Homo sapiens: one gene and its partners. The protein of the gene in region 7 purifies or fractionates together with the protein of the main gene of each other region. This does not show direct contact. Each region holds a gene or a part of one and is shown on either strand. Other genes may lie near its edges.

Region 1 (3,500 bases), on a different chromosome or scaffold from region 7:
CTGGGATTACAAGCATGAGCCACTGCACCCGACCAATGACTCCATTTTAATATACTATTCTTCCTCTTTCGTAATGACATGATTACCTCCATATATTGCTAAGCACACAGGACATATTTCTGGATAATTTTTATTTTCTGCCAAATTTTCCTATATTTTTTGGCAATGAACATGTATGAAATAATTTTAGATTACCATAACTAATTTAAGGTCCAAATCTGACAGGCACAAAAAGGGAGAGGAAGGAGAAAAACTACTACAACAACAACTTGCTTATGATCTGACATTTTATGTTCGGCTTAGATACTAAGAAGCCAATTTCATAATTTGAAGAGCCTTTATAGGGCTGTTTTCTATATAAGGTATTGAAAGGTTCTCGTGTATTTTACCAAAATTCCCAAATGCTAACTATTTTCTTCCTGAATCTTTCTGTACCATATATACTTTAAAGGGGTAAAAAAGGATTTTGAGGCAAAAGAAGAAATACTTCAGAGACATGAACAATTCCTAAAATATGGGCAACAAATTACCTGATTAAAAATATCTCCTCGTACAGCTTCACAGTCAACTTTGTATTTACAAATCAGGCAAGATGCTGTTGCAAAGGAACCTAAAAACAAACAACATATATATGCTTTATTAAAGAAGTATTTCTGTTTCTTGAACACACCACAAACGTTATAAAGTTTAACATCACAAATGTTAAGAGGGTTTAAGGATTTTTGTTTTTGTTTTTAACTTTGATTTTAAACCTCAGAACACACTGCAGATTTTGTGATATACTACAGGAGAATCTAGGGGATGAAGAATTTATATATTTATACATAGAATGAATATGATTCTCAATCTCTGAGACACTAATATAATGATGCCTTCTAAAGCTACTCTTTTCAACAAAACTGTAACAGCTCACTCCTCCAGGGCTAAAATCCTGCAGAGTTGGACAGTTCCAACTCTATTACCTTAGCTCGGCAGTTCTTAGAAACACTTTAGATACCTAATGGCCTGTTGATACTTGTTTTAAACATTTCTGAATCTCTGAATCCTGTACATCTCAACTATCCAGTTCTTTTAGTTTCATAAACTAAAGATGTCACATTTCTTCATTAACAGCTAATACTACTCTTGTATTCAGAATTTCTTTTTCTTTTTTTTTTTTTTTTTTGACAGAGTCTCACTGTCTCCCAGGCTGGAGCGCAATGGTGCAATCTTGGCTCGCTGCAACCTCCAACTCCCAGGTTCAAGTGATTCTCGTGCCTCAGCCTCCTGAGTAGCTGGGATTACAGGCGCCTGCCACCATGCCCGGCTAATTTTAGTATTTCTAGTAGAGTTGGGATTTCACCATGTTGGCCAAGCTGTTCTCGAACTCTTGGCTTCATGGGATCTGCCCGCCTCGGCTTCCCAAAGTGCTAGGATTACAGGCGTGAGCCACTGCACTCAGCCAGAAAAGATTATTTAAAATAATTGAATGCATGCAACTGCAGCATCTTTTGAAATCAAAAGCAAATTAATATCTGAGGTTTTCTATAATTAACTGTCAAGGCCAATACTTCTGTTTTTATTATTTTTGTTTTCTACTTTTCTGAGGTTATCGATAAATGAGATAACATGATTAAATAATGCTTTATCTCCACTTCTCGATGGCAGTCAGCTTTATAGGAAATATCTTCCTATAAAACTAAAATAAATTACAGAAAACCACTCTGAAGTTTACTAACCATGACACTGAATTATCCTTTGGATTCCCGCAACCTGTTCCAGCGTGTCTATGTTCTGGGTATAGTTGCGAAGTAGTTTTCCTTCCTTATCTGACAAGGCTATGAATTTGTGACAGAGAGATGGCTGGAATTGTCCAGGATATATTTCCTGTATCAAGCAAATGGTAGAAAAAATTTACATTAGTGAAATAAACTACAGATGTCATATGTTTAACAAAAAAATACTGATAATCCCACACACATAATTTTAAAAATGAAATAGATGAGCATTTTAAAGTATCTAGATGGATGCGACACACACCTACAAAAGGACGGTTGCTGTCATATGCATAAAACTCAGCAATTAGTGAACTTGGCCCCTTGAAGAAAAAGACAAAGTCGGCCCATAAACATCTCTAAGAAATGTTGATATTTTAATAAAAGTCAGAAGTAATACAACCTTAGGATATCTAATTTTTGTTGGCTGCAAATTCAGATTTTTTTCTTTAAAGAAAAATGGGAAAGTTTAAACTAAAATTACAGATATCAAGGTAGGGTGATTTAAAAAAAAAAGCACTGTCAATACAAGAATATTTAAAATTTTTTTTTGATTTATCATTCATTAGAATATCAACCTGCTGGAAGTTTAAAGCTAAAGTTTTAATCCTTACCAAAATTGTTTTCCTTCCACTGCACAGGCACATACTGGTATAGTATAGAGTTGCTCATGAATGCTGAGTTGCTGGATTTTGTGTGTGTGTTTTTCCCCCCAAATAATGCTTCAATGCTGTTTCTTCTTTAAAAACAAAGAATTCAGATATACACATGGCAAAAAGATCAGAGAAAAAGTATCAATTTTGGTCCTCCCAACTTTTGACAGTGTTTTTATTAAATTCCATTTAGTAAGTGACTATGGCAAAGGAAGTTTATTCTCTACTTTTTCCTTCAAAGTAGTAGTGCTATCATCTACTTACTTCCTTACCATTCATTACAGGCTCTAATCTATCACAATGCTAGCAAAAAACTAGACACAACCATATGTCCATCAATAGGGAACCGGTTGTATAAATATGGTACATCCATAATAGTGGAATATGTAGCCATTAAAAAGAATTGAGGGAGATCTAGATGAACTGCCCTGGAAAATGGTTCATGACATACGTGAAAAAAGCAAATTAGTCACCAGTATGTGTAACTTTTGTTTTTGTTACTAAGCAAAAATTGAAATTATATGCATATGTATATAGAGATGTCCATTTAATCAATCAAGTCAGGAAGGATACAAACAGGCTGTAAGCAGATGTGGGGAACTTTCACTTCTGACATTATACAAAAAAGTTTAATAGAGATTAAAGATGACTTTTTACCTATTTAATCTTTCAAATTAAAAAAAAATTCCCACTGCAACTTCTAGGTTCTACTACCCAGGCTTCTAAGTAAAACTTAAGTGAATTCCGTTAACAGCTATCACATACATGTACACATGCTGCTAAAAACCTCGTATAAAGAATCCAAAAACGTTGCCTTAGATTCAAATATTTATCACAAATTTCATGAATAACTCTTTGCAATTTAAGAAATAGAGAGTGCATATAGTAGCAAGGGAAAAGCTTAATAAAGTCAATGTTTACAGAAAATCAAAAGCCACTGTTTTGGAAAAGTGAGTTCAGTTAAATCAACCACTGTTTTCTTCCCCAGAATGCTTTGTTCTAGTACATTTACATTTGAGAGATTAAGCATTGTATGTCTCATTAAAGCTCCCTCTGGAAATAGCTTTTAGAGTATTTTAGGCACTATGAGAAT
Region 2 (3,500 bases), on a different chromosome or scaffold from region 7:
TTGTTTGTTTGTTTGTTTTTTGACGAGTCTTGCTCTGTCACCAGGCTGGGGTGCTGTGGCGCGATCTCAGCCCACTGCAACCTCCGACTCCCTGGTTCAAGCGATTCTCCTGCCTCAACCTCCCGAGTAGCTGGGATTACAGGCATGCGCCACCATGCCCAGCTAATTTTTGTATTTTTAGTAGAGGAGGGGTTTCACCATGTTGGCCAGGGTGGTCTCAATCTCCTGACCTTGTGATCTGCCCGCCTCAGCCTCCCAAAGTGCTAGGATTACAGGTGTGAACCACCATGCCCGGCCAAAGAGTTCTTTTTTCAGCTCCACAGCTGGACCGTCTTAATAATATGACAGCACAGATGAAGAGTTTTAAACCTTTTGTTGGCTTTTCTTTCGTATCTTTTTGGCAAGGGCACATGAAAATTAAGTACTGATAATATCACAATGAAAGCAGCTGTGTCATTCAGACCAGTGACCATTTTAGGTTTGATGAACTTTTCATTACCATCATCCAGGGTCTAAATTCTCCATTGTAAGGTAAGGATTCTCCAGGGTGGTGGTGAGGTGGGTTGAGATTGCATTTGTATCATTTGTGTTTTTATGAACTCTGAAGATCCATGTCGGGTGAAGGAAAGGATGGGAGGAGAAAAGGAAATACTTTGAAAGAGGGATAACTTGGACTGTTTATTTCCTTATGTGCTGGGTAAGAATGTCCAGGTGACATCTATATGTAGTAAATCAGTATTTCTAGTCTGTGGACCACACTGTAAACTTTTTATCTTTCTAAAGTTTTTTTTATTTTTGTAGAGATAGGGTCTCACTTTGTTGCCTAGGCTGGTCTCAAACTCCTGGGCTCAAGTGATCTTCCCACCTCAGCTGAGTAGCTGGGACCGCAGGGGCATATCACCATACCTAGCTAATTTTTGGTTGTTTTTTTTTTGTTTGTTTGTTTTTTTAAAGAGATGAGGTCTTACTTGCCCGGCTCAAGTGATGCTCCCATCTTGGCCTCCCAAAGTGCTGGGATTACAGGCATAGCCGCAGCACCCAGCTTGAAGATATTTTTATATTTCCAGGGTTTTAGGTGTTTACTTAAGAATTGTGACATCTTATTAGGTAGTATTTCCTAGGATGATTAGAGTGGGAGGCTAAGAATGCTTGTGACCTTTTAGTTCCCACCACCAACCTCTTAAAGTGCAGTCTATTTATTTATTTTTGAAATAGGATCTCACTCTGTCACCTAGAGTGCAGTGGCACTATCATGGCTCACTGCAACCTCGACCTCTTGGGCTTAGGTGATTCTCCCATCTCAGCCTCTCGAGTAGCTGGGACTACAGGTGCACGCCACCGTACCTGGCTAATTTTTGTATTTTTTGTAAAGATGAGGTTTCACCATATTGCCCAGGCTGGTTTCAAACCCCTGGGCTCAAGCAATCCTCCTGCCTCAGCCTCCCAGAGTGCTGGGATTACAGGCGTGAGCCACTGCACCCTGCTAAATGCAGTCAATTAAATGTATAAGAATCTGCCAGGCTGAGTGCGGCTGGCTCATGGCTGTAATCCCAGCACTTTTGGGAGGCCAAGGTGGGAGGATCACTTGATCCTAGTTGTTCAAGTCCAGCCTAGGCAATATTGAGACCTTGTCTCTACAAAAAGTTTAAAAAAAAAGCCAAGCATGGGGCAAGTACTTGCAGTCCCATCTCCTTGGGAGGCTGAGGTGGGAGGATTGTTTGAGTCCAGGAGGTAGAGCTGAGATTGCGCAGTGATCACTGCAGTGCGCTGAGATTGCGCCTCTGCAGTTTAGTATGGGCAACAGAGCGAGACCTAGTCTCAAAAAAAAGAATCAGTTCCAGTGCCATGGTCCTTAGTGTGGAGTAGGACCAACCTAAGACAGAAGCTTGTCTACAGAGAGCTGAAAGAAAGCAGCCTCTTTGTTGCCAGTTTAAAACAATACTGGCATTTTAAAAGCAAACAGATTCTAGTAGGAGACATTGTATAGAAGCGCACCCTGTTGTGAAAGACTGGGATCTTGAGTTTCGTGCTCTAAGTCTTGTATTCTATCAGGGGAGTAATAGGCTTTTAAAATCATAAAGTGACTATTAAAATGCTTTCAGTAGATAGATTCATTACTCCATTATTTCTACTGTATAAAAGTTTATTCTAAACATGTCTAGGAAATATCCAGATTATAAAAGAGAAATAACGGTATCCAAACCAGACTTTTTATTGCATAACATTGGTGTTAGAGTTAGTTTTTAAGTCTCTGAGATTGAATTAGCTTTTTTTTTTTTTAAAGCAGATTATCAGTGAGCTAAGATAATCTGCTGTTTACCCTCACCTATTTGGAACACAGGCAACTGAATTAATTGAATCAGCAATAGGCATGGGGTAGTGACTTTGTATATTTTCATTTTAGAGCCAAAAGCCAGTGAGTTTTAGATTAGCTTTATAGTAATATTAAAAACTTCATCTTTTATTTTTACAAATGTAGCCAAGAAACATCATTGCTGTTAAAATCAGTCAGAAAAGGAGGCTACTTGCTCTTTATTGATTTAGTCATTCTGCTCTTGGAGTGAGTAGAAAGTCTTTGAAAGCTTTTCAAAAATTAGCGAGTGATGAATTTTATGAATTAGTCACTTCTTTGCAGCAGTTTTTTTTTATCTCTACCTCTGTAGGACATAGTTCCTGGGCCAGAAGCCAGATTTCTCAAGTACCATCTAACCCCAGGAATGTGTTATGATACAGATAAATTAATGAACGGAGGCTGCCTTGAGGTTGCCAATAGGGCATTGGGGAGTAATTAATATGACAAAGATGTCATCTTATTAATGAAATGTATTAATAGTATGTCTAGTGGATTGGGTCAATGCAAACATTTTAGATTAGATATTTGCTGTTTATCCTCTGAAGTTACTGTTTAAGGAAGTCTGGCCAAGTTCTAAAGTGAAGCATACATATTTGCCTCACGTGCCATTTTTTTTTTTCTTCCTGGCTTTTTCTTAGCCATCTGGAAAGCTACTATAGGGTTTACCTCTAATGGTAGTCAAGTTACTGTATTCCTCTGGTGTACTTTAATGATTGCCACATTACCAGGTATGTTTTGTTAACCTTACTTAGAATCCAACATTAGACCCTTTCTTCTAACCTAACCTGTAGGAAGGCACTTCTTGAGGTTTTAAGCCTCTCTTTAATGTTTTATTGTAAGTTGTACCTTGGGAGCATCATTTTTTCATCTTAAATCCTCTCCAGTTTAAGAAAAATTTGAAATATAAATGGCAAAAACTGTTAATGGCAACAGACTTCTGATGTAAATGTAAATTGAGATGGAAACAAAATGAAAAGTAGATTTCCCTAGGAATTAGTTAAACTGAGATAAATGGTCCTGGATGTTTTTATAGAAAGTTCTCTTAGCCAGGTGCAGTGGCATGTACCTGTAATCCCAACTACTCGGGGGGCTGAGTTGGGAGGACTGCTTGAGCCCAGGAGTTTCAGGCTGGCAACATAGCAAGACC
Region 3 (3,500 bases), on a different chromosome or scaffold from region 7:
GCAGCCCCAGTGGAGGCTGGGATGATGTTCTGGTGGGCACCCCGCCCATCTCGCCAGGCCTTCCTTGATGGCCCGTCCACTGTCTTCTGGGTGGCCGTGTAGGAATGGACTGTGGTCTTGGGGAAGAGAAGGACCAAGATGAGGCCTTCATGCTCCTAAGCTCCCATGCCTCTTTTTTCCAGGACTAAGTTGGTGGCCTAGGTGTGGAGGCTGGTGGGGCCACCACCACAGACCACAGGAGGGGATGTGTGCAGGCCAGGGTCCAGCCTTGCCTGAGGGTTGCACAGTGTTTTAAGTGACTTCTGCACTGGTGGGCCTCTCCTCCCGAAACCAGTCTCTCCCTCTTAACTCCATACAGTAAGCAAGGCCCGGGAAGAAGTTGGGTTTCCCTGCCATCCTTCCTGCCCCAGCCCCTCATCCTCAACTCACCATCAACCCTTCCACGATCCCAAATCGCTCGTGGATGACTTTGGCGAGGGGAGCCAAACAGTTGGTGGTGCAGGACGCGTTGCTGAAACAGCCAAGGTGTGCACGGACACTGTGAGGTGAGTCGCAGAGCCACCCCTCCACCCTTACCCCTCTTGGGGTATGCACGCAGACTTGGTTTTATGAAACGTCAGGATGAGGGTGAGAGGGATCTGTGGGGACACTGTCAGACTGAAGGAGGCACTGAGGTGCAGCTGGGGAGGCTCCCCAAGCTTGTCCTCTGGAAGTCATGCGTTTTTAGCAGATAGTTTCGGGAAGGAGAAGCAGAAGCCAAGCGACCAGGAATCCAGTGGGGCTGAGGGTGGGGAGGACGAGTCTACCCTCCCTTCCACACATTGCAGGATGTCACTGCCCACATTACCTCACAATGTTCATGGAGCCAGGGTTATAGTCATTTTCATTGACACCCATGACGAACATTGGTGCATCCGGTGAGGGCGCGGAGATGACCACACGTTGAGCACCTGCAGAGATGTGGTCCTGGGGAGGAAGCGCAGGTGTCAGGGGCTTCTGGCACCATCATCCCCCCAGCTAGCCCTGGGCACCTCTCCCCAGCTTACCGAAGCTGCCTGTATGGAGAGGTACACGCCTGTGGACTCCACCACGTAGGGGCTCCCGACAGCCCTCCAGGGGATCTGTTTGGGCTCTTTGCTGTGGGGAAGTGGCAGGGCTGAGTCAGTCTCCCCTGCTTGAGCCCCACCTTCATAGTCCATGGCTTTCACCATTTGACAGGCTGAGCAGGTACCGGCCCACCTGCAACCACCTGCGTCCCCTACCCCACACACCTACTTGTTCCAGATGGGCTCCACCCCGCTGGCCTAGCTTTTCACCACTGCCCCACTTCAGACCACTTTCCCTTTGCTGATTGCACCACCCCTGTTATGCCTGGGTACAGGTGGTGACCTCCCCAACTCAGCCCTCAACCTCCTCAGAGGCGCCAATGCTGACTGCTGTCAGCCAGCCCAGACCCTTTCTCCATATGCTGCCCGGGACGTGGACTCTGTGACTGTGAGGCCTGCCCGGCTGCTTTCTGCTTCCCAGCTCTGACAACCTCGCCATGAACCCTCCTAGACCCTCAGCTCCTGCAATAGGAAGCTGGCTGCCAAAGGCCAGGAGGGTCCCTGAAAACAGACACTGCATTAAAGAAAAAGCTCCTGGAGGACTCCTGAAGCCTGAGGCAGCCTTGGGGCAGCAGTGGCTCATGGTTTACATTGGAAAGGTAAGGGAGGTTTCTGGTTTCCTGTTTTATAAATTTATGTTTTTACTTGGTATTTTGACAAACATTTGTATTTGAAGCACACTAAACATCTAGTATTGCCGTTTTCTACTTGGCTTTAGCAAACAAGCATTAAGTGAATAAACTGTTCCACTTTCTTCCTTCCCAGGTTTATCATGAGTAACCGGGTGCTTTGCTTCTGTGATTCTTGGCCAGTGTCGGTCTGTTTCCTTTGCCATTGAGCCTGCTCCCCTCAATGGGGGGTTCAATCAATGTTTGTGGGGTTTGTTTGTTTTGAGACAGGGTCTTCCTCTGTCGCCCAGGCTGGAGTGCAGTGGTGCAATCAGAGCTCACTGCAGCCTTGATCTTCCTGGCTCCGGCCATCCTCCTGCCTTGGCCTCCCGAGTAGCTGGGACTACAGGCGCACACCACCATGCCAAGCTAATTTTTAAATTTTTTTGTAGAGATGGGGTCTCACTTTTGTTGCCCAGGGTGCTTTAGAACCCCTGGGCTCAAGTGATCCTTGACCTCCCACAGTGCTGGGATTACAGGTGTGAGCCACCGTGCCTGGCCTCATGGGTTTTCTTTGTTTTGTTTTGTTTTGTTTTTGAGACAGAGTCTCACTCTGTCACTCAGGCTGGAGTGCAGTGGCACGATTTTGGCTCACTGCAACCTCCACCTTCCGGGTTCAAGCGATTCTCCTGCCTCCGCCTCCCGAGTAGTTGGGGTTACAGGCATGCGCTACCACACCTGGCTAGTTTTTTATTGTTGTTGTTTTTTGTATTTTTAGTGGTGACGGGGTTTGCTCTGTTGGCCAGGCTGGTCTCAAACTCCTGACCTCAGGTGATCCCCACTTCAGCCTCCCAAAGTGCTGGGATGACAGGCATGAGCCTCTGCACCTGGCCTCGTGTTTTTTTTTTAGTTAGCCATTTTATACGTGTTTACTGAACACCTGTCCTGTGCCCATATTCTAAGTGCCTTACCTGCATTAAACTCATGTAACCTTCACAACCCGATGAGGAAGTGCTACCGCTGTCATTTTTTGCATTTTTTTACTGCTGTCAGGGCAGAGGGGAGGGGAGTGAGAGGGAGAGCCTGCTGGAGTGCAGGTGGCTGGTCCCACCTCGGGTCTGCACTCCTGTTTCCACTGCCTGAATGAATGAATGAATGGGCTGCCCTGCAAAGCCATCACACATGCATGGTTATCCTCTTCCTGTCTCCTGCTCTGTCAGTCCACTTTCCATCATCTGGCCCAACGAGCTCTTCTCAGATACCCCCCATTTCCTGCCTTCCAAATTAGGGACACTTGCGATTCCTCTGCAACAATTGCTGAGTTGGCCTGAGGCAAAGACTGTGCCCCCAGAAGACCCCAGGCCCTCCCCAAGGCTGTCATGGGCCCCAGCCTCCTGCCCACCAGGCTGTTTTGAGGATTCCATTCATTCATTCAAAGGAAGTTCTGAATGGCTATCAGGGCCTGTACCTGCTAATGCCAGAGCAACAGTGGTGGTACCAGTTGACAGAGCCCTCCGTGCAAGGCCATGGCCTTGTGGGAAGTGCCCGTTTAAGTGTCCACAAACACATGTTCACTCCATTCGTGCTCCCAGCTACCGCTGTGGTGGGTTTGCTCATCATCCCCATCAGATACAGCGGGGAACTGAGGCTCAGGCAAGTTTGGTTCCTTGCCCAAGGTCACCCAGCTAGCTAGCGGAGGTGCAGGGCAGAGTGCAGGCACACAGCCTGGCTTGTGCAGCCCAACAGTGCGGGGATGGAGAGGGGGCTGGAGGGGCGGGGAACTGCA
Region 4 (3,500 bases), on a different chromosome or scaffold from region 7:
AAACCTGAATCTAATCATAAGGAAACATAAAACCTAACTTGAGGTTTATTTTACAAAACACTTGGCTTTATACACTGAATTGAAGTATGATTTCAAGGATGATGTGTTAATTCATGCATAGCAGATGAAGAATGTGTTATTTAGGGAAAGTTAAGAGACGTTTAAGGCACTGTTACATTTGGTATCACTACTACAGAGACCAACTAAGATAGCTGAACCAGTATAGATAATCCTCCTCGAAAACTTGTCTGTAAAATATTGTTCTCAAGCCCTCTTTTCCTTCATCCTCCATTATATTACTAGACCATACATTTCAATATTGATAATTTGGGGGCTCACAATATAATCTAATCACATTAAGACTATTGCATGTTAAAATTTTCTCTAATACACGTATTTAAAAGAAAAATATTACATTAATTTTATCAAATGCTAGTTATGTACCATGAGAGTTTAAGAAACTCCTTTTTTTTCTCAAAACCTCAAGAGGCAAACACCACTACGACAGTTTATAGACAAGGAAGCTGAGACTCAAGAGACGTTGCCATATGCCCAGTGCTCATCGGCTATAAAGTCGAAGAATCAGGATTTGAACCCTGGTCTCTCTGACGCCAAACACTTGCTCTTAAGCATCCCTACAAAGCTATGATAAAACATTAATATTTAACTCTGCAAAGTGGAAAGAACTTAAAATACCATGAATCAGAGCAACTGACAGTGATGGCTGGGCAGCAGGATGCATAAGAGGCGGACAGGCTGTGAGTTCATCATGTTAATCTCACCTCCCAGGATGTTACCAAAAGAGGAAAGACAGAAATCCTGCAATCTCGAAACATCTCAGAGGACTAAATACGACTAAATACGACTACTACCTTTCTTTTTCCCTTCAAACAGGGTCATTTAACTTCTTAATCAAAGAACCTTCCTACATCATGTCAAAGATCAGTTTTTAAACTAAGAGTCTTCTCTCATTATTCAAGTTCTCTAAGTACAACCGGTTTGTTTTCTTAAAATTCTGAACTGGTTAACAGACCTCATTTTCTAATCCTCAAGAATTGTTCAAATGTGTTGTTAAAACCCCTGCTTTATGGCATACATTGAGCTGTCAAAGAACGAACAAGCACAACAGAGTTAGTCTGTGCCAACAAGGAGAAAGTCTGCAATACAGTTAAACTCCAATTTTGACGGCGATTTTCTCCCACGATTCTTAACACTTCCCTCAGTCTGCAATGTTTCTGTGCACATAATCATACGTACCTCACAAAGCAAAAAGGACCAAGTAGCATGATTTGTCCAAAAGCAGAATAGTAATAATCTTTTTAAAAGCCTTAATATGCAAGCAATATTCTTCCCCACAAAACTGTGTTAGCTTCTAAATACTTCAAAAAGTATTATAAATTAACTTACTCACTCAACAAATCGGAGTGTCTCCTATATGTCAAGCACCATGTCTGGTAATGAACATGCATGAAGAATCTAATCCTTACTATTCCATAAACCTTAACACAACCAAGAACATGTAATGCTGTTATAAGCCTAAAAAACAAAAAGAAAAAACTCTAAGGCCAAACTTAAGCCTGTCATGTCTTACTTCTAGTAACAGTCTTACTGACATCCTCAGAGAATGTTTTGTAGCATCTTCTTAGTCACTTATTTAAAATGCATATTGAGGTAACTGCATGTTAAAGGAGTACCAACAATTCATTGACAATTTTAGATGAGGAAGCCATTTTGCACTCAGAATTATTTTAACAAAGGCTTTATTACATAACTGAAAATGTCAATTTCACCAGCTACATCTCAAAAATAATCTTTTTCTTTCTGTATTAATTCATCAAGTATACACCACGATACAACCAGTCTTACTTTTTAGACCAACACACGTTCCTAAAGACTGGGTGAGAGGGCTGGGCACGGTGGCTCACACCTGTAATCCCAGCACTTTGGGAGGCCGAGACGGGAGGATCACGAGGTCAGGAGATCAAGACCATCCTGGCTAAACACGGTGAAACCTCATCTCTACTAAAAATACAAAAAATTAGCAGGGTGTGGTGGCGGGCACCTGTAGTCCCAGCTACTCGGGAGGCTGAGGCAGGAGAATGGCATGAGCCCAGGAGGCGGAGCTTGCCGTGAGCTGAGATCGCACCACTGCACTCCAGCCTGGGCAACGTAGTGAGACTCCGTCTCAAAAAAAAAAAAAAGACTGGGTGAGAATTCCTATTTGGAAAATCCTCACTGCCCATGTTGTCCACAGAGCTTATTCCTGAATGGATTGTTATTTAGCATCTGTCAACAGCCTGAATGAGACAACTGATATTCGAGGGACACCACCCAAAAGAAATTAATGAATCAAACCACTGGAACAGTGAACACCTGTATTACTAAAGCTTTTCTATTATGCCTGAGGCTTTTATCCAGTTTCTCTAAAATGGCATGTGAAAAAATGTTTCTCTATCGTTTGTAAAATGTAAAACATTTTCTCCATATATTGCTAATGTTATTTAATGTAATAATCCAAAAGATTGATTATTCTTCATACAAGAGAAAAATCTGCTTCAAATTGGTATGCTTCCTTTCATTAATCAACGTGAGTTACATGCAGCACTCACCTTTCCTTGCCCCAATCATTCATCTAATTCTCTGCCTCCACATTCTATACTACCAACCTTTACCATTTTCATAGTACTCTAATACTTTCCTATTATAAGACCATTTCAAATCCTTTCTCAAAATAGACATCATAAACTATTAAATAAATGTACTAATACTAGAGTCTTAGCAGAAATTTGGAAGAAGTGAAAACTAGCCATCAAAAAATCAAAAGGTCCAAGCCCCACAGGCTAAGGAGGTGGAATACCAAGAAAATAATGCTGCCTCAGAAGACTAGTCATTTGGCAAGTCGTAAATTGCAAAGAAACCTGTGAATAAGAGCGAGTATAATACATACACTGGGCTTTCAGGATGAACTAAGCTCTTGAATGTCCAAAAAGCACAGCAAAAGGTAAACAAAATAAGTCACTTGGCTCCAACTTTCTCTTTATACAAATTAAAGACCTCACCAATATCTTCCTCTGGCATTCAATAAAGCACATCACTCCATGTTTGATCAGTTTTTTGAATACCTGCCAGACACTATGATTGGAACCAAGATCGTAAAAAGGAGTCGACCCTGGGCTTCAGAGAGATTACAGATTTTACTGACAGAGGAGTTGTTTGTAGGAAATTATCACTGCTTGGAGGAACCCTGAGAAAACTCATACTGCAATAAATTCTGAGTCTAGTCTAGTGTTTTGAAGATCAAGAAACAATGTGACCACTTTGAGGTATATGTCTAAAAGAAGGGAAAGCATGGACTCCAATGAATTATTTGTATACCTACGTTCACAGCACCATTATTCACAGTAGCCAAAAGATAGAAGCTACCCAAGTGGCCATGGACAGATGAATGGATAAACAAAATGCAGTATATTCATACAATGAAATACCATTCAGCTTTTCCA
Region 5 (3,500 bases), on a different chromosome or scaffold from region 7:
CCATGCCTTCGAAGGTATCATGGGCTATTCTTTCATCCCGTAATGCCCTTGCCCACTTTTCCATACAGAATTTCTACTCATCTTTCAAGATCCACCTGAAATAAAGCCTTCCTTGGTCTCCAACCATATATGGGAGTGATGATTCATCCTTAGTTTCTCCAGTTTTTGCTCTCCTGGTGTTTCTCTCTTACACTGTTGCTTATATTTCAGGAATGTGGTTACATATTCATATTCCCTTGAGGACATAAATTATGATACATTCCTTTTTTATTGCCAGATTTTGCACAATGACTGGCAGAGAACAAAGATTTGGGCACATCTCTAACACACTTCTGGACTCATATATATGAAGTGACTACGTAACAAGAAGGGCTGTATTGAGGTTATGTGATGTGAATTAAGCAAGCAAAATCTGCATGCCTATATATGAATAAATACCTCTAAATCACTAGCATAAATAAATAAATCACAGGCAGTATTCATGTGATTTAATCAGAGTCATGTAGCTTGGCACATGACTCTAATTTTAAGGGCTTATGAAGAGCCAGGATTGAGGCCAGGTGATTCTAGGGAATTATCTAATTTTCCTCTCTTTTCCTCCTCTACTTTTGTGTTTAGCCAGCATATTTCCCCTGCCTCATTTTATCACTTATAATCTCCTAATTACCTAATAAATCTGTGAGATAAATCCTTCCCTTGAATTAGAGAACTTAAGAATCAGCACAGTAAGAATAACTATCTTTTGCGTAGCACACAAACAATGTTCTAAGGGCTCAGAGGTAGAGACACTTGTAAATCACAACGTCAAGGCTTAAACTCAGGTTTTCTGATTTTGTTGACTTTACTGTGATACTTTGCCTAAGAACACATAAGCATTTTCATGACCACACATTGCTATTTGATTGAAATGTAGAGTAAAGAGATGCAGAAAAGTGTATTTCGTTGTTTTTAATAAATATTTTACAGGAATGAAGTAGAATGCATCTTGTCAGTACTTAACCATCACGATTACAACAAATATTTCTGATTTGTTCAGCCCCTGTAACTTTGAACCGGCAGTTATTTGTCACTATGGTTTCCCTTTGGTACAGAATCCAAATAAGCAGTATTCTGCATGATTTCATACAACCTCAACTTCCTCACTTGTCATTATACTGGCCTGAACCATCATTTTCGCCTCATCTCTAGAAAGCCTGGATCATGAGCTTTTGAAGGGGATGGAGGAATTCCACACATGCCTAGTACCCAAAACAGTACCTGGCACTCAGCAACTGTTAATCCCCTTCTAATTTTCTTCCACCATTCCTCTTTACTTTTTTCCCTTTAGATATTCTAATTGAAGTGTTTGGGCTTTAACATCAAATAGCAATTTCTTATGCATTTTTTCAGATACATAAGTGAAGGGCACAAACAAATTTAAATTTTTGGATTATAGAATCCAATTATGTCTTACCCTTCTTTGACACTGAAATAGAACTATTTTCCTTAAAATCAAAACTTTATTTATTAAAAATAGATGAACATTTTATTAGAGTTCAGAAGTTACTCGTCTGTCCTACAAAATAATACAAAAAAGTGGATTCATAGCAATTTAAAATAAAGAATGTAGTGTGCAGGTTATATTTGCTGTGGAATGTAATTAAAAATTAAGAAAACTTTAATAATATAATTTCTAAATTTAGTACATATATACAGAAAAAACCCACTGACAAATATTAGAAAATAAATGTTATTGAAATTAAAATATTGAAAGAATTGTGTGTGTGTGTGTTTATATGTAATTGATAGAAAGAGCCTGGGAAAAATAAATACCATAGTTTGAAAGATAATTCATTTTTTAACTAAAACACAGAAAACCTAGGTTGTCATCTTTCAGTCTCATAGTAATGGAACAATCAAATGTCACGAATAATCCAAATACACATTTAACTCAAAATGTAGATAAACATGACGTGACTACACTTTTTCCCCTTTTGGGTGAGTAGAATCAATTCATTTAAATAATTCCATTTTGATTAACACGAAGTAGAATCATTTTTCTTAACCTCAAAATATCACAAAGAGACATAACAAAAGCAAGCTGGTAGGTAAAAGCACTTAAAGACTTGAATTTAGCCTGGATAAGCCAGACTTAGTTATTTTAGGTTTGGCTGTACTTACATTAATATGAATATGAATACAAATAGCAGTTTTATTGGAGAAACTTGCAGAAAGTGCATATGGGTCTGTATTTCATGGTTCTATAGTTAGAACACTGATGTAATTATATTTACTTACTTACTATAAGATTTTGGCTATCCTACATGCTCAATTTTTAAATGATCTCAAGTAAGTTGACAGATTTATGTAGATCCTGACTTTGAATTTTTAAAGATACATTATGATCTATTTAAAACATGGTTTTAGGACAAAAGCCCATGACTCTCTAAATGTGATTTACCTATTCCAGTATTGCAAATTCCACACTCAAGAGAAATGGGTCATCATAAACATATTTTTTCATGAAGCAAGACTAATTCTCCAATAGTTCCTGAACCAGGAATTTCGTTATTTGCATTTCAAAACAGTATTGTAGCAATAGAATTGAAATTCCTGCAGCTCTGAATTTGCTATAGAAAAAGCTTTGTAGCCTCTGTCGTGGTTAGCTTAGCTCCACAAACAAGCTCTTGACCCCAGAGACTTTCATTCTCATAAGTGAAATGGTATCCCGTAGATACACACCATTTTGATGAAAGTCAATCCCCTGTGATCTCACAATTTAGAAGTCTTGGGAATCTTCATAACCCAAAGATTTATGAGCAAACTGTTGAAGAAAAGTACTCTACCTTCACATTGTCTGTTTTTCATGTTTCTCTGAAATCCAGGCTTACAGCGACAGAAAACAGATGTTTTTATTTGATTACAATATGCATCATCTCCACATGGATTCACATTATCTTCACAGGTATATTCAGTAGGAGCTGGGATTTAAAAATATGATCAAAACTAATATAATTCTAATTCCTGAAGTGGGGAGTTAACTTTTAAAAAATGTTTGAAATGGTATTTATTATTCCACAGATAACTCTTTTTGAATGTACAAGGTTACGGTCTTCTCTCCATATAAGCCCCCATGTCTTATAAATGTATAGAAGTATAAAAACTAAACTCATTAACATTAAATACAGATTAGACCAAGCTGCTAACAGTTGATATTTAGAGCTGCTGTTAAGCTGTAACACTTTTTAAAAATAAGTCAGGAGTCAATGATTCTAATGACAGGCTATCTTTATTATAGTACGATATATGAGTACTACATCCTTCTCTGAGAGCCAAAGCATTTCCTATAAGCTACCTAGAAATTTAGGCATTTATTGCTAACCTAAGCTTAATATTTGTAAACTCAATCAAGGGTACTGCTAAGTTACTCAAGCAAGTTGTCTAAATCAGCAGTTTAAATTTCATTTTTTTATGCTGGACATACATATGAAGAGTAACATTTGAGTGTGTAATGTGCTCAT
Region 6 (3,500 bases), on a different chromosome or scaffold from region 7:
ATTTTCTGAGCCTAAATGCATTTATCCATGTTAAACATAATTATTTTAACCTCAGCTTGATTTGGTCTTTTTAACCTTTGTTCTGTTAATGAGATTCTTTTTTCAGCCTGTGTTGAATCATCCACAAATGAGTATTCCACATCATTAATAAATAATGCTAAGGAGGACAGAACCAAGGACAGAAACCGGTAAGACGACTCCTTTTTCTCATCAAATTAGATAATATTCAGCACAGAGTTGTTCAACTGACTACAAGTCCTCTTAATGCTTAAAGCCTCTACCCACACCTCAATCTCCCATTTTAACGCCAGGATTTCCTAGGCAACACTGTCAACCCCACTGAAATCATAGAAGCCTGTGTTTCTCAAAATGAGAGAAGAAACTAAATGTTAGTATCCTTTTCTAGATAAAGTTATAGAAAAGGGCCAAATCATGATTTGTGACATTGCCCCCACTTGCTTCTACCAGTTTTAAACACTGTCTTTTTGGACCTAGATTTTAAGAAATATTGGTGGTTTATATAGCACCATAATAAACTATGACAAAATATACTTTACAAAAATATTAATATTTCCAGGTTAATCCAAGCATCGAACAAAACTCTTCGAGATGAAGTGTTCTATCAGGTGAAAAGCCATTTCCTTTCCTTATGCTACCTCATTCCCTTTTCCAAGAGTTGCCTTCCCTCCCACACCTAGTTTGCCATTTCCAGGGGCTAAGTTCAACTGATGGTCCACAGGTCCTTTCCACACATGCCTGAAACCAGCAATATGCTAAGAACCCTTTCCTCCCTCAAGACTCTGCTACAAATGGTATCTATTATTTCCAGTTATCACTTAATGTGGATAAAGAGTTTATAGAATTTTATAGGTTAGTCAGAAATGCCTTTAGGTAGAGGTTAAGACTATAAGAAACAACTGTCTCATAATTAATAAAATATTTCAAACACCACTGTTATGAACAAAGTTAACTAAGAAAAGTTATATATGAGGTAAGTGCCTTGTGCTATACAAAATCACATTTTTATAATGGCTTTGACTTACGTATTTTCAATCATTCAAGCATAAGTCTTCCAGGTCATTTTGTTCCTAACAGCAGGACAAGCAGGGACCCTCGCCCCACCAAAAAGATACTATTTTAACTAATGTCAGGAAAAGTACAGGGCTACTTTGATGCCTTTTACAGATACCTGTCCTTTTTCTTGTTCTTTAAAGAAAAAAAAGTACCCTTTTTAAAGTGAAAAAAAAAATTTTTCCTCAGAAGTTCATAAAAAGTTTGGGAGAAGCTTAAAAGGCATAAAATTAAATGTATGCAATATTTTTCAAATCAACTATTGGCACACCCCAATAAAATTAGCTGGGCTACTTACTGTATTAAATAAGTGTTAAAAACAATTAGAAATACATTGTGAATAATAAAATACATTTTGAAAGTAATAGCATATTTTCAAATTTAGAATTTTTAAATAATAATGTAAATTTATAGCTCACTTCTAAGATCTGAGGACCTAAACTACACAATTATATGCAAAAGTGTAGTTACCTTTCACTTAGATGATGAAAACTGCTGCTTTCATCTTGGTGTTCATCTTCAAAACTTAAATTGGACCAGCTACCAGTGCTGTCATCACCAATACTGAGGTTCATCTGCTGGCTACTGACAGACTCGGTTGACTGAAAGTCTTCTATTTCTTTTGAACTAAAAAGAAGAAAAAAAGAAAAAAAATCAAATTGAAAGCATCCCAGATTCTGAACTTACAAGACTATCAATTTGATGACAAAGATGATAAAAACAAGAAATGGTATTCGGAATCAGACCAGTGGCTCATGTAATCCTTTATTTGAGTCTGCCAACAAACAGACTGTAGGATAGCGTATTAATTTCAAAGTTAACTGAGGTACCCACCAACAGCCATAACTTACTTTGTTAATCTACAATGGATCTATCCCTAGGGCATTATTTCTCTAAATTCTACTTAAAGCAGTTCATTTTTCAACTGAGATACCATGGGGCAGTACAAGTTCCTAAGTTATCATCTGCTTTGTAAAACAGTACTTTTATTTATGTTAAAGGAGTCTCTTTCTGGCTTTAAGAACAAAAAAGTCGTTCAAGAAATTCTAGTATTGTCAACCAAGCCTGTATTCAAACTAACCAAATCTCTTCAAGATTTTGAACATAGATCATAACCCCTTTCATTTTTCTCAATAAGAGGCATTTATACTTTTATTCCATCATCACAAGAAAGTCCATTCACTGCTCAACTATTTTAATTGTCCCACTACATTTTATGTTCAACAAAGTAGTTCAAAGTGATGTTTCCATAAAAAGAAAAAATGTCAGTCTTCGGATCAAAACCTTCCAATGGCTTCCCACCAAGCCGAAGAGCCCAAATCCTTAAAACATACTGCCTGTCCCCTCTTATAACATCCATCTGAACTCCTACTGTTCTCCCTGGCCCACTCCTCCTATGTTCTCCCTGGCCCACTCCTCCCACTTCAGCAATACAAGCCTCTCTGTTGTTTCCCAAACATGCACAGTCCCACCCCTAGGCCTGGAAATCTGTTCTCGGTGACTCCCACATGACTTATTCTCATTTCACTTTTGGTTTTTGGCTCAAGTATCACTTTGCCAGTATTGTTTCCCCTGCTACCTATCCAAAACTGTAAACCAGCCCTAATGGCCACCGCCACTGTCACCACCAGCACTCTCTAACTCCCTAACTCCCTACCTTGCTTTATTTTTCCCCCAAAGCACTTATCACTATGTGACATACTATATATTTTACTTACCTATTGTCTTATTCCACTATAACATAAGCTCCAAGAGAATGCAGATTTTTGCCTGTTTTACTTACTTCCGTATCCCTAGTGCTATCCTGAGAATAGCCCCTGAATTGCCCCCCATTTTTTCAGCTATTCTAATTTTGTAAGATACAGAATGATACTGAGCATTCCAAGCATAGGCACATTATAGTTCTGAACCATTGATAGATTACTACTTTGTTTTTTTGAATACTTTTCCTAATATGTGCCACATTCTCATGGTTTTTGGCTGAAATGACCCAAAGGATGAGGTCCAGAGAAGAGTTTATAATGACTGTGAGGTTATTTTGGCTCGGAATGATAGCTTAGAATATAATCGTTTTGTTGGCTAAAAATGCACTATCAGCCAGGCACGGTGGCTCATGCTTGCAATCTCAGCACTTTGGGAGGCTAGGGCAGGAGGATTGCTTGAGCTCAGGAATTCAAGATCAGCCTGAGCAACATAGTGAGATCTCATCTCTACAAACAAACAACAACAAACAAAAATGAATAAAAATGTACTATCACATAATTTCCCAATTGCATTCACATGCCACCTCTCTGTTCATTACAGTTTGTGAAATATTTATGGTCATGTTCATGAATCAAACAAAAAGGGACATCAGGTGAAATAATACCTTAAAGAATAATCCATCTGAATGAATCTCCTTTCAAGTTTGAAAGACAAATTTAACTTTA
Region 7 (3,500 bases):
TATTTGTATTACTATTTGAACTTCTCTATATAAATTTCTGTATATATATTTCTATATCATGATCTCAATGTTTAAATATTAATTTTATGAACTCTTTAGTAAGATTACTATTTTTTCATATCTTTTCAAGTATGTTTCTCAATTTTTATTTGCCTTTCTATCATTATTTGTGATTTTTATATGTATAATATTATGCAGTCAGATATGTGTATTGATATTTTTCCTTGTAATTTCTTACATTACTTTTATGTTTACAAATTACTTTTCTTTTCAGATATAACATATTTAGTCACTAATTTTGTCCTTTTTTTAAAGTTCTTAGAATATTTATCTATTTAATCCATTTGAAAGTTATTGTAAAGCACAGTATAAAGTGAAAAGAATGTATTTTTTTACAAATAGGAATATTTTCAACATTTACCAAATAATACATTCATTTTCTATTGATGTGCCATATTTCCTTCATAATGAAAAGCTGTATTTTATGCATTAAAACCTGTTTCAAGAGTTTTTCCTCTGTTTCATTTATCTTTACGTCTACTATTGCATCACATGGTTTTAACAAGTGTAACTTTACACCAGGTTTGCGGGTCTCATAAGGCAGATTTCCTCTCTTATTTTCAGAATTGTCTTTACATACCCTTACCAATTTATTAGAATCATTTGTGAGGACATAAATCCCAATTATCCAAAACTATTTTTACTGGGATGGATTATAATCCATTCATCTCTCCAGATAGAATGTAATGACCAACAACCTGGTATCCCCAACTGGATCTCTAGCACTGCAGCAGATGCAAACACCTTGGTAGAGATGAGTCCAGAATCACTGATTGCTTCTTTAGGGAGACAAGATATACGCAGAATCTGGCTTTAAAACCAAGAACTCAAGGTGATATCCATGTTGTAAGGAGGGCACCCAAGTACTGATAGAATACAGAAAAGTGGAGTTAGTTCCCAAAGATGTTTTTGGTTTCTTTTCAGAGGAATAGTCTTAGGTTATATCTAGAAGAAACAGATGAGCATTAACAGCAGAGAATGGGAGGGATGCCTTGTTATGTAAAACTGAGTGATTTTGCTGGAGAAGTATACTGCATCAACTTATGGGGCCCAACATGGAGGCTGGGCTCAAGAGTTTGACTTTATATTACAAGTAATGTACCAATATCCAAAAAAAATAAGAAAGAAAGAGAGGCCAGGGAGACAAATACACACAGCTAGAATTTGTGTGTATGTGTATGAGTGTGTGTGAAGCATATATTTATTTGTTTATACATTGCCTTGTGATGATTTGAATTGAGAATCACATATCCGATTCAGAAATCACCTTAAAGTGTGTGTGTGTGCATGCGTGTTTGTTTGCAATACTCTATCAAATATTATGAAGTGTTTATATGGAAAATATGTGGAACTATAGTCTCAACTCCCTACTTACTTGATCTGTAAGCTATTAAAGTGGCCTTAAAAGTTCAGTATGTGCCACTCTAAAATTGTTTGAATGATTTGAAAAGAATTGTTCTTCCTTAAAATAATTGACTTGCTGTAAATTTTGAAGTCACTTAATGAATTTTGAAACTGATTTTTAAAGACTCTATTCAAATACTCATATTTTGATTTTTCCTTCATTCTATGAAGAATTAATTGATAGAATATATGCTATTCAAACAGAGGCATCTGTTAAACTAATTTTTTTAAAAAGACTTTGGCATATTTTTGTTATATTTTTAAACCATGACTGCTAACTGAGATTGAGGTCTTCCTAACAGTGTGCATACAGTTCCTTCTGCCTCTTTGTGCCTACCTTGAGCGCCACTCGTAACACATGATGAGAACATCTTGATGGGGCAGGATGTGTGGACACTGGCAAGAAGAATTTGTAATGAGCGGGACTTGAGTTCGAGGGATGGGTGATGAGGACTTGAAGATCTCTTTTACATCCACCACCGTTGTGACCTCATTGCAGCCACTCCTCTGCACAGCTTTTATTTTGGCATGAATAACTGCAATTTAAAAATAGATAAAAGTGTTGTTGAAGGTTTTGGGGAAAAACTAGGGATGGTGTATTCATGCCAACTTCTGAGCCTCTCTTAAAGAATCACTCCTGTAATTATGGTTATGTCCAAGTGGCCTGAGTGCAGGCAAACAGCCCACACAGTCATATGCTAAATGGATGGTGTCCTATATTGTCAACATTGTCTTAAATGTTCCGGGGCATACTGCAAGATAGGAAAGCAAGCTGAAAAGCAGGTTTTAGTCTTTCTCTGCCTTTAGGTCAGTAAAAAATTCACAGAAACATATATTTGTATTCTTCCTTGTGGTGATTTGAAGTGGGGATCATATATATTCAGATCAGAAGTCATCTTAAGGTTTGCATTTCTTCAATCACTCATCTGATGCTTGAGCTTCTTCTGTTTTACAGAGATAGTCATTAGTCATAACATTTTTGAACTGGAGGGAGTCTCTGAGGACTACTGTTCTCAATCTTTTAACTTCACAGACTGACAAAGTAGACCCATGGTGAGCAGAGATAGAACTGTTATTACAGATGGCTGTTAATGTCACTGTCTCTGACCAAGTTTTAAATGCTGGTTTCTGTGGTCTCTTGCTATTACTGCCTCCCGTAGAGTTGTAATCAGCCTAATATGGCTCTGTCTTGGATTCCATTTCAGGAAGCCAGTTTATGAAGACACCAAAGGACTTGAATACAAAATGGTTTCTTCATCAAGGTCGTTCAAAGGCCATAACACCCCAGAGAATGACATGACAGTGAAACTCAGATTAATATCTCAGGCTGGATCTTGGCAGAGGAGGGACTAAGTAAATCAGATGAGGATGGTAGCTACATAGAGCAGGCTTTAAGAAAAAAAGCTACAGGAAAAGATAAACTACTTTTTGTTGTTGCTGAATTACCCCCATTGGCTAAATATGATTCTTAAATCTGATAGTTTTGTAACAGCTTATTTTTTTTCAGATTTCTACATTTCTGTGATCCTCCTACTTTCATGTCTGATATGTATCCTAAAGTTTCTTACTGATATAAAATTTCAATCTGCAAGATGAAAACTAAGTCAGCAAACAAAATAAGCATTTTCCCTAAAACCACTTTATGTTATTTCAGCAGAAATGATTTAAGACATGCAATGAAATATAAAGTAGGCAGCCCAAACAGACATTTTTAAAATGTCTGCCTTTTACATTTCTTTTTGAATTGAAAAAGAACATATGTTAATTAAATTTACTTTCAGATGACAATTGTGAAATTAAAATTACTTAAAACATTTCAAATTTCATGACTGACTTATTCATGGAAGAAAATGCTGAATGGTTCTTTCAAGTAAGAGAGAGGAGGGCATTTAAACTAGTTCGATAGTGTAACCATAGGATTTTGTGATTAACATTTTTTTCACAATTTATTTAAGATGTTAAATATTTGTAGCTAGTCACAAGTAAAAGGATATGCAGGCAGATCTTAATTGTCTGGGCCTATGGGCCTTAATTCT

What was found.
Region 1: the proteins of SFRP4 (region 7) and SIRT1 purify together in Homo sapiens (affinity purification with mass spectrometry; 3 studies listed by BioGRID and IntAct, with this or other methods). This does not show direct contact.
Region 2: the proteins of SFRP4 (region 7) and DCAF8 purify together in Homo sapiens (affinity purification with mass spectrometry; one large-scale study listed by BioGRID and IntAct). This does not show direct contact.
Region 3: the proteins of SFRP4 (region 7) and GAPDHS purify together in Homo sapiens (affinity purification with mass spectrometry; one large-scale study listed by BioGRID and IntAct). This does not show direct contact.
Region 4: the proteins of SFRP4 (region 7) and DICER1 purify together in Homo sapiens (affinity purification with mass spectrometry, with the first as the bait; one large-scale study listed by BioGRID). This does not show direct contact.
Region 5: the proteins of SFRP4 (region 7) and LRP1B purify together in Homo sapiens (affinity purification with mass spectrometry, with the first as the bait; one large-scale study listed by BioGRID). This does not show direct contact.
Region 6: the proteins of SFRP4 (region 7) and AKAP11 purify together in Homo sapiens (affinity purification with mass spectrometry; 2 studies listed by BioGRID and IntAct, with this or other methods). This does not show direct contact.

The regions. Positions count from the first base shown.
Region 1 is NC_000010.11:67,905,156-67,908,655, reverse strand, and holds part of SIRT1 (NAD-dependent protein deacetylase sirtuin-1), read right to left. Parts: intron 2,494-3,500; exon of another isoform or gene 2,402-2,493; coding exon of another isoform or gene 2,369-2,401; intron 1,867-2,368; coding exon 1,719-1,866; intron 611-1,718; coding exon 531-610; intron 1-530. UniProt on the Homo sapiens protein: NAD-dependent protein deacetylase that links transcriptional regulation directly to intracellular energetics and participates in the coordination of several separated cellular functions such as cell cycle, response to DNA damage, metabolism, apoptosis and autophagy.
Region 2 is NC_000001.11:160,256,050-160,259,549, reverse strand, and holds part of DCAF8 (DDB1- and CUL4-associated factor 8), read left to right. Parts: intron 1-3,500. UniProt on the Homo sapiens protein: May function as a substrate receptor for CUL4-DDB1 E3 ubiquitin-protein ligase complex.
Region 3 is NC_000019.10:35,539,956-35,543,455, reverse strand, and holds part of GAPDHS (glyceraldehyde-3-phosphate dehydrogenase, testis-specific), read right to left. Parts: intron 2,719-3,500; exon of another isoform or gene 1,872-2,718; intron 1,706-1,871; exon of another isoform or gene 1,382-1,705; intron 1,138-1,381; coding exon 1,047-1,137; intron 967-1,046; coding exon 848-966; intron 546-847; exon of another isoform or gene 512-545; coding exon 430-511; exon of another isoform or gene 183-429; intron 117-182; coding exon 1-116. UniProt on the Homo sapiens protein: May play an important role in regulating the switch between different pathways for energy production during spermiogenesis and in the spermatozoon. Required for sperm motility and male fertility.
Region 4 is NC_000014.9:95,151,030-95,154,529, forward strand, and holds part of DICER1 (endoribonuclease Dicer), read right to left. Parts: intron 1-3,500. UniProt on the Homo sapiens protein: Double-stranded RNA (dsRNA) endoribonuclease playing a central role in short dsRNA-mediated post-transcriptional gene silencing.
Region 5 is NC_000002.12:140,353,517-140,357,016, forward strand, and holds part of LRP1B (low-density lipoprotein receptor-related protein 1B precursor), read right to left. Parts: intron 2,961-3,500; coding exon 2,826-2,960; intron 1-2,825. UniProt on the Homo sapiens protein: Potential cell surface proteins that bind and internalize ligands in the process of receptor-mediated endocytosis.
Region 6 is NC_000013.11:42,306,652-42,310,151, reverse strand, and holds part of AKAP11 (A-kinase anchor protein 11), read right to left. Parts: intron 1,699-3,500; coding exon 1,543-1,698; intron 1-1,542. UniProt on the Homo sapiens protein: Binds to type II regulatory subunits of protein kinase A and anchors/targets them.
Region 7 is NC_000007.14:37,910,318-37,913,817, forward strand, and holds part of SFRP4 (secreted frizzled-related protein 4 precursor), read right to left. Parts: intron 2,001-3,500; coding exon 1,802-2,000; intron 1-1,801.